2 separate regions of the Homo sapiens genome follow, and region 2 is linked to region 1. The links come from fine-mapping of genetic effects on gene expression. A gene starts in region 1. The other region holds a variant in brackets. All regions are shown on one strand. Distances are from middle to middle. Region 1 holds the start of NOXO1 (NADPH oxidase organizer 1). Region 2 overlaps ZNF598 (zinc finger protein 598, E3 ubiquitin ligase).

Evidence for each region. PIP is the estimated chance that this variant, and not a neighbour inherited with it, causes the effect.
Region 2: its variant is the best candidate, but not a certain one, in a credible set for the expression of NOXO1 in whole blood (TOPMed, PIP 0.54).

The regions. Positions count from the first base shown.
Region 1 is chr16:1,979,096-1,983,400 of GRCh38, forward strand. It overlaps NOXO1 (NADPH oxidase organizer 1), which reads right to left and starts at 2,374. Exons shown (of 8, transcript NM_172167.3): 1 at 2,019-2,374; 2 at 1,844-1,924; 3 at 1,561-1,636; 4 at 1,272-1,449; 5 at 902-1,086; 6 at 695-808; 7 at 330-447; 8 at 1-254. The coding sequence starts at 2,084. It overlaps TBL3 (transducin beta like 3), which reads left to right. Exons shown (of 22, transcript NM_006453.3): 22 at 1-3,834. RefSeq lists enhancers at 1-76, 77-656, 657-1,234, 1,235-1,814, 2,291-2,350 and silencers at 221-340, 1,133-1,427, 3,637-3,829.
Region 2 is chr16:2,000,394-2,004,761 of GRCh38, forward strand. ZNF598 (zinc finger protein 598, E3 ubiquitin ligase) reads right to left here. Exons shown (of 14, transcript NM_178167.5): 4 at 3,223-3,335; 5 at 2,598-2,727; 6 at 2,128-2,339; 7 at 1,813-2,030; 8 at 1,190-1,307; 9 at 611-798; 10 at 1-88. Among named protein-coding and RNA genes, the nearest start is that of ZNF598, 7.2 kb to the right of the region's middle. RefSeq lists a silencer at 3,648-3,717. The variant G/A (reference allele first, on the strand shown) is at 2,412.

The sequences.
Region 1 (4,305 bases):
GAGGGCGGCCCTGGCGCCGTGGGCGCCGCTCCAGGGCCCTGCGTGTGACGGTGCAGCAGCGGCTCTGGATGGCGCCCGGCGAAGGTCGGGTGGGCACGGTGGGGGGAGGGGCGGTGGCCTGGGAGGGTTCAGGGAAGCCCCGGGCCTCACCCGCCGGGTCGTCTCCTCCACGGAACCCCGTCCCGCTCAGGAGAGCGCCCAGCCCTTCCGGCCGCAGCAGCACCGCGGGGAGTAGGCCCGCCCGGTCGCCGTACCTGCGAGGGGCGGGGTGTGGTTAGGGCCCCGCCCGCCTCGGCTAGCCTGCCCTGCCCACGCCCGCTCCCGCGTACCTGCATAGCCACCAGCCGCGGTCTGACGTTTCCAACACGCGCACGCGCGCCCCCGCGGGCACGGACAGCTCATCTGCGCGGCTGCTCTCGTAGGCGCGGGAAGCACAGAACTGGGGACCTGGTGGGAGTGGGTGTTTGGAGTCACCGCGGGGCCACAGAGGACGAGGCCCGCCCGCACCCTTCTCCACATTCTCCTTGCTTGAGTCTGCTGACGGCGGGGCCGCTCTAAGACCGGTTCGGGGCTTCCTCTAGGTGCGGAGACCAAGCACGGGCTCCTGGCCCGCCCTGCCCGCGGTGCTTCTGGCCCAGTCTTGCCACACGGTCAAGCCGCAGTGGTGGCGTGAGGGGTGGGGTTAGGCGCATACCGCTGCTCCCTAGGGACGGGCCTCCCTCCCGGCCTTGGCCCGGGGCCGCCTCCTCCAGGTAGGGCGCTGGAAACCAGGCGGTCTGCCGGTCTTCGTTCTCCACCAGCCACCAGCCTGTGCGCAAGAAGCGGGCAGGGACTCAAATCTCGAGGCTCCCTCGGGTCCAGGAGCAGAGGAGCAAATCCCTGGGTTCTTGGGGGGCCCTACCTGAGGGGTGCCGCAGCAGCACGTCCAGGCTCTCCTGGGCCTGCGCCTGAAAAGGCCTATCCCGCGTGTCCTGGGTACAGAAGGGCTGCAGGCAGCGCAGGCTCTGAGCCTCCAGACTGTGGATGGAGAGGCGGCCCGCAGCGCGAGAAAGAGGCTGCTCCTCTGGGGTGGGCAGGATCACCCGGCTGGGAAGGGCAGCCCGTACGAGTGAGAGGTAGGCGGATGGGGAGGGTGAAACTGGGGGCGCCACCCCGGCAAGACCGCCAGCCTCCCACTCTCTGCCCCTATTCGCTGGCTGTTCCCCCCCACCCTGGACCTCTCCCAGCTCCAAACGCCGCTGCATGCTGGGAGTTTGGGGCGAGTCAGGCACCTGCCGGGTGGCAGCGCGGGCTCCAGGTCCAGGGGTTGCGGTGCGAAGAAGCCAGTGATCGTCGGGCTCCGTGCCACGCGCTCTGCAGTCGCCAGCAGCCTCCGAGAATAGGTTTCCAACAGCTGCAGGCGCGCCAGGCCGCGGCTCGTGCGCCCCACGCGTCCCAACAGTGGTGCATCTTAAGGCACCACAAAAACGTACTGTGATACGCCGCTTTGGGCTTCACTGGTCCCTGGCGCCCCCAGGCAAGCCACCGCCTTCCCCGCTCCCGTACCCAGGCTGGCCTGACCGAGAAGCTTTGGGAGAACGCGGTCAGATCTCCGCAGCAGGCCCGCCTCCACCGGGAAGGTCTCCTTGAGGGTCTTCTGAGGGCGGGAACCAGGGCATTGGTCTTCCAGAGCCCACTGTGCACCCTTGAGAGGGCGGGGTCCCTCACCCGGATGGCAGGGGCTGGGAGCTTCAGCAGGGACGAAGGGCCTCCAGTGGGAGTCACTGATGGGAGGCAGTCCAGTGGGAGGCAGCCGCGTGGGGAAGCCGCCACCGCGGCATCAGGGTGGCCCAGGGTCACTCACCTTGAGCTGCCTGAATTCGTCCCAACTCCTGCGCACGAAGGTGTCGCTGCCGTCTGACCAGCGCACAGAGAAGGCAAACGTCTGGGGGACAAAAAGTTGGGAGTGCCGTGGAGGTGCTGGTCCAGGCACCCCCTTCCTATCCCTTGGGGCCACTAAGGACCCAGCCAGGTCTTACTTGGAGCCTCTTGATCTGCACCAGGGCTGCCCCTTGCACTGAAACTGGGTATCGGGGGCCTGCCATGGCTGTGGCTTCCAGGCTGCAGATTCCTGAAATGGGCGAGGACCCTTCTGCCTCCCCGTGCTTGAGAGGGCTCTGGGGGACCCAGAAAACCCCCTGGGATAGAATCCTGGCAACACCTCAAGCCTGTGGGGTCCTTGTGGAGCCGCCCCAGCTGAGTCCTTTGCAGCTTTCTTGCTGTCCCCCAAGCCCACGATCTGGGGGCAGGAGCACAGGGATTGGGGGACTTCCAGGCAGAGCTGCTGGGAGGAAGAAGAAGAATGAGCTTTCCAGCCCTGGAGGCGTGCAAGACTGAAGAAGGGGCGAAGGGTAGGCGGGACTGCTGCCTGGGGCCCTCCTGCCTGCCTCTGGCCACAGGAGGAGGGAGGAGAAGGCAGGGCTAATCAAAGCGCCACCTGTCCTGCCCACCTCTCTGGATTCCCCTACCCTGTGAGGTAATTGCCCTGCCAGGGTGCGCCCAACAACTTTGAACTGGCCTGGGGATTTCTGTGCAGAACCAAGGACTCAGTGCTTACAGCTTTAAGTGCTTTGTCTGACTTAATCCTAATGCTGGAGGAAAGGTCTCTTAATGTCCCCAACTCATAGAGGAGGAAATGTGTGTTAAATGCGTAATTATTGTGAGCTGTTCTATACATGCTGGGGGAGGGGCAGACCTCACAGGCTCACCCCAGGGGTTCCCCTGCAGTGAGGAGACTTGGGGTAGGAGAAAGAGGGCCCATCTGTGCAGTCACTGGCATTTGGTGGGTGGGGGTGGTGGTCAGGGAAGTGGTCACTAGGGCTGTTTTGAGAACCACCTCTCAATTCACGATTTGCCATGACTTACTGCAAACATGGCCTGGGCAGAGGCTCGCCCAGGTGCCCCACCTCTCTGGCTGCTTCCTTATAGTTCGGGCTTCGGAAGCCACATTCAACCCTGGCACACAGTGGTTTTTCCTCGTGCTGGGGCCACCAGTTCTGTGTTGGGATGCACCTACTCCAGCCCCTTCAGGGAGCAGTCAGCCTCTAAGGCATCCCTCCAGGAAGCTGCCCTGGCTGCAACAAAGGGCCTTTGTGTGTCTGTCCCACCAGCACTCTCTCTCATGCCCTCAAGCTGTCCCTGGTCTTGGCATGGGCAATGAACACCTGCTCACATAGGGCTGATTTGCAGGGTTCCCCCAGCCAGCTGTCACCTTCTCCCTGTCTCAGCTGAGGGCCCAGCTGACCTGGTGGGGTCCAGCGTGTGAACCCAGGGGAGACCTTGCTCCCCTGGAAGACAGGAGAAGCTGGGGAGGATTTATTCACAAGCAGAGGCCTAGAGGGATTCTGAGGCCACCTGCCTACCCCAGCTGACAGCTCCTGCCCCACACCCCATCAGCCCTGCATGGTTTCCACTTTTTCCTCCCCTACCCTCTTTTCTTGCCTGAATAGTACACCCCACCCTCCATCTGTATGCTCCTCACTTGCCCCTACAAAATCCACTCCAAGGACAGACACAGTGCCTCACCTGTAATCCAAGTACTTTGGGAGGCCGAGGCAGGGGGATTGCTTGAGCTCAGGAGTTCGAGACCAGTCTGGGCAACATGTTGAGACCTCCATCTGTGCCCCCCAAAAATACAAAAATTAGCTGGGCGTGGTGGCGTGTGCCTGTAGTCTACTTGGGAGGCTGAGGTGGGAGATCACTTGAGCCTAAGCAGTCGCGGCTGCAGTGAACAAGATCGCGCCACTGCACTCCACCCTGGGTAACGGAACAAGACCCTGTCTCAAAAAAAAAAAAGAAATCCACTCCCCATATGATAGCCAGCGGAATCTGCAGCAAACTGAAATGGGATCAGATTGGGTAACCTTGCCCAAAACTGTCTAGCATCTTCCCTCCTACCGTTATAATAAATTCCCAATCCCCGAAGCTGCCGACCAAGTCTTTGGTGGGCCCCTGTCCGTCCCTGGATCTCCCCTCCCACCTTACAACCCTCCCTAGCGTCCCACTGGCGTTTTTGTTCCTGCAAAATGCCAAGACCCTGCCACCTTGGGCTTGGTCTCGAAGGCGCTCCTCAGCTGATTCCTCATCCTTCAGAAAGGGTCACCTCCTCAAGGAGGCCTTCCAGATTTACTACACCCTTGCATGGACCCACCAGTTTGTACGTGAACATTTATGAGTGTGAGTCCTTGTTTTTTTTTCCTGTCTTGACCACTGGATTATGAACAGAGAAGGTCAGGGAACAGAATTGTGTTCCCTGCTCTGCCCAGC
Region 2 (4,368 bases), 21 kb after region 1:
GGCACCCCCACACACCCTGGGGCGGCTGGGCCTGTCACCGAGAAGGCTTCTTGGCTTACAGGACCATTTGTCGAGGTTTCCTTGGGGCCTATGAAGAACACAAGGCCCCCAGGTCAGGTCAGGGTGTGGGGACAGGCCCTCTGGGGACTGGCAGTGCAGGGTGCTCTTCAACCTCCCAGGTGAAGGCCTGGAGCGTCCCAGGCACCGTGCCCATCAAGAGCTGGCCACTAAGCTGGACATCGTGGCTTACACCTATAATCCCAGCACTCTGGGAGGCTGAGGTGGGCGGATCACCTGAGGTCAGGAGTTTGAGACCAGCCTGGCCAACATGGTGAAACCCCATCTCTACTAAAAATAGAAAAACAAGCCAGGCGTGGGGGCAGGCACCTGTCATCCCAGCTACTCGGGAGGCTGAGGCAGGAGAATCACTTGAACCCGGGAGGCAGAAGTTGCACTGAGCCAAGATTCCGCCACTGCACCAGCCTGGGCAACAGAGTGAGACTCTGTCTGTCTCACAAAAAACAAACAAACAAACAAACAAACAAAAAAAAAGAGCTAGCCACTGACCTCCTAGCCCGGGCAGAGCTGCCACCAGGTAGGGCTTACTCACCTGGGCCTTCGCCCTGAGTCCGGGGTGAGCGCCGGGGGCCACGGGGATCCTCAGGTCCCCGCGCCGCTGCCTCCTCCTTCTTGGGCCTACCGCCTTCCTCCTGATCCTCACTCCTGCGAGCCTCCTCCTGCTGCTGTGCGGCCACGGAGGCCCGGACAGCAGCTGCTACTTCTCGGTCCTCTTCTTCCCTGGGACAAGGAGGCCAGCCTTCAGGCTGAGCATGGCCCGAGACCAATGCCTCAGGCGGGCAGTGCCTGGGCCCAGTGTGTGGGGCGATCATCTGGGGTCTGATGCCTCTGCCCTGCAGGGCTGCCGGGGCGGTGCTTCCTCGTACAGCTGCGGTGACCGCCCAATTGACACAGGCCCCTTTCACCCACCCCAACCCTGGGATCTGTGGCTGTGGCTAGAACTGGAGAAAAGAGAGAGAAACTTGTGCCCACCAAGGACCCTCAACAGACCCTACTGCCACTCAGGACCCCAGGAACTCTGGCCACAATCCCTGACCCCATCCCCACTCCCAGCTTGGCCACTGGCCACGGTCACCACAGGAGAATGTCAGCGGCACGCAAGGTCCCCCACCTTTTGTACCTCCAGCTTCCTCGGCGGCTCTGCTGGGCTCCGCGAGTGCCAGCCCGGGCCACTCGGCCCTGGCGGCTGTACCTGTCCACCTCCTCGTAGTCTTCGCCACCAACGACCCCTGCGGCCAGCAGACAGCCCGTCACTTCCCGGGACCCCGGGACGACAATAGGAGGAACAGGCCTGCCGTCAAGGCCACACCCGGCCAATGCTCAGGCCTGGATGGCAGAGGCTTTCCTACCCACAGTGCACATGAGCCCGGGAGTGGCACAGGAGCCTCGCAGGGTCCACGCCAGCCACGGGCCTCTACGACCTGGGTGCCAAGCCACAGGAGCAGTGGGAAGGGAGAGGAGGAGGGTCCCCGAGCCCCAGGTGGGATCTGCATACAGCAGATGCTCAGTAAAAGCCTCCTGGTCCAGGGAAGGGCCCCGGGCACCCAGGGCAGCAGACCCGAGACCCTGAGGGAGCAAGAGCTCCTGGCACACAAGGGGTGCTCGGGCGCTCCAGCCTGGCCGGAGGGTGGGAGGTCAGCTCCTGCACCCACAGCTCGGTCTCATCTCAGGCTCCAGAGCAGGGCATGGTCATGCGGCCCCACCTGGGGGCATCCAGGCCAGGTGCCTGCTCACCCTCGTTCCGGCGCGAGTGCCGTGGCGCGTAGCTGAACTGCAGGTCGATGTGGCGGTTCTGGCGTGCCTCGGCGCGGCTGCGACTGTGGCAGGCCGTCCTGTGGGCCTTGAGGTCGATCTCGGTGCGGAAGGCGTGGGTGAACTGCTCCGTGCTGCAGCGGCCTTCCTCACACAGAAAGTGCTTCTCCCGGAAGTGCTCACGCAGGTAGGCATAGTCGCTGGCAGGAGATGGGGTGTCGGTAGGAGGGCTGCAGCCCGGTTAGCCCCACGCCCTCGGGGAGGGAGGGTCATCTGTCTGTCTGCTGCCCGGCCCACCTGTAGTAGTCCTGGGCCCCGTCCGAGTCGCAGAAGTGGCAGAAGTAGTGGTCGCGGCGCAGGTGCTTAAGCAGCTCATCATTGTCCAGGTAGCGCTCGTCACAGAACTTGCAGAGCGGGTGCCCACGGTGCGACGTGTCATCGGGGTCACCCTGCATGCGATGCCGGGCCAGGTCCTTGCGCGAGTACCACTTGCGCTCATATGTGAAGATCTACAAGGCACAGGAGGCTGGGCACAGGCTGGGGGACCCCAAGCCTCCTGCCTCTTCCCACAGGCCAGTGGC[G/A]GAGCAGCAAGGGGCGGGAGAGGGCCCCGCCAGCAGCCAGAGGCCTCCCTGCCACGTGCAGCCTGACCCTCAGGGGGCCATCCGGGGCCAGAAGCAGCAGGTGGACAAGCCCCTCCCAGCCGTGTGGCCACATCCCTTGCACCACCCACCGCCTAGGCTCTCTCCGGGGTCGCTGGGGGGGCACACCTGGAGGTGCTGGAGGCACAGACGGCAGCAGAAGAGCTCATGCTGCCTCCGCATGTGCTGCTCCAGGTCCCCGAAGAGGCTGAAAGGTGGCAGCTCGGGGCACCGCGGGCACTCGTGCTGCAGCAGCTGCCTAGGAAGACACCGAGAGCCGCCCACGGCCCCAGGACATTCAGTGTCACCGCCGGGAGCAGGGCCACTCACCAGGCCCCAGGCCCGTGACCCAGGACAGATGCAAGGCCATGGCTGTGCACATGGCCTGGGTCAGAAGCCTGGCTCTAGCCCTGAGCCCATGAGCTGCCCCTCCTCTGAGAGACCAGCCCTGGGACAGCTGTACCCTTTATAGGATTTTCAGGCCACGGGCCTGGCTCACACACCTCGTGTGCCCCTCAAGGTGCCCCCGAGGCAGGTGCTGCACCACCTGGGCATGCCTTTCCCCAGCACAACCACCAGCTCTACCCCCAGGAGGGCCTGGTAAGCCTCCCCAGTCACAGGATGGAAACCCAGGTGCCTGGCCCCAGCATTGGTGCACCAGGTGGCCCCCGAAGTGCCTCCGGTTGTGAGGAGAGTGGGACGTGAAGGGCCACAACCACAGGGAGGCCAGGACCCAGGGAGAGGCCCTGCTCACCTGTACAATGCGTACACCTTTCCATCTGCAAAGTAGATATCATATTTCTTCTCATGCTGCAGCTGGTGGATGGGGATGGTGGCAAAGGCAGGAAGCTTCTTCCCAAAGACCACCTAGAGCCAAAAACCAGAGGGGTGGTGAGCAGGACTGGGATGGGACCCCCACCTGGGATGCAACGGAGGCTCAGAGGCAAGGGAGCCCTCACAGACCCTCTAAGAAGGAGTGAGGCATAAAGGGTCCTCCTAGGAGGCCCCAGCAGGCAGCGGCCCCTGGCACCCTGGCCTAGGCCTCCCCTCCTCACCCCAACCCGCTTGCCTAGGGTCAGGGGCAGAGGACAGAGACACAACGCCAGGCCTCTCCACCAGGGGGCGGCAAGGCCAGTCCCTAAGCAGCCACGCCCCACCGGCCGGGGCCCTCACCCGGTGGCTCCACCCTGCGGGGAACAGAGCAGCTGTCGCTCTGCGGAGCTTTCCAGGACAGAGAAGAAACGTGTTCCAAGCAGCTGCTAAGGGAATACCAATGGCCGCCAGCCGGGGATGCATCAGGTGACAAGGCCCGGCTACCCTGTCCGGCGCCCCCGCCCCCACGTTTCCATGGCGCCTTCACGGCACGAGGCTCAAGCCGACCACCTCAGCTCCGTGCATCCTCAGCAGGCGCTGCAGAGCCTCTGCGTGGGCCCCTTCCCAGGGGTCTCTGGCACCTGCAAAGCTGGCTGCCAGAGGACTTGCCCGTCTGCCCTGTGCCCTCCACAGACGGCCCCGGCATCCCTGCTCAGCTCAGCACCCCTGCTCTCCACGAAGCTCTGCTGGGGAGGACCCTCGCTGCCCCCATGCCAGCAGAGATTGGTGCCACCCACCCCTTGGGTTGGTCAAGCCCCCTTCTGGCTCCATCACTGTCCCAAGCCTGGCACTGGTCACTCGCCTCGGCTCTGGGCCCTTAGAGCAGCTCAAGGCCTCAAGCGCACATCCAGGGCAGGGGGACGTCCTCACCCGGGCAAGGGTCATGCCAAGGTCATGTTAAGTTTACCTTAGCCCCTTAGCCAAAGAGAATGTCGGGCTGGAACGGCCGTGAAGCTGGGAAACCTGAGGCTTGGCAGGAAGAGCCAGTCCCACACGTGCTCAGGGGGTCCTGGGGTGTCTCTGTCCC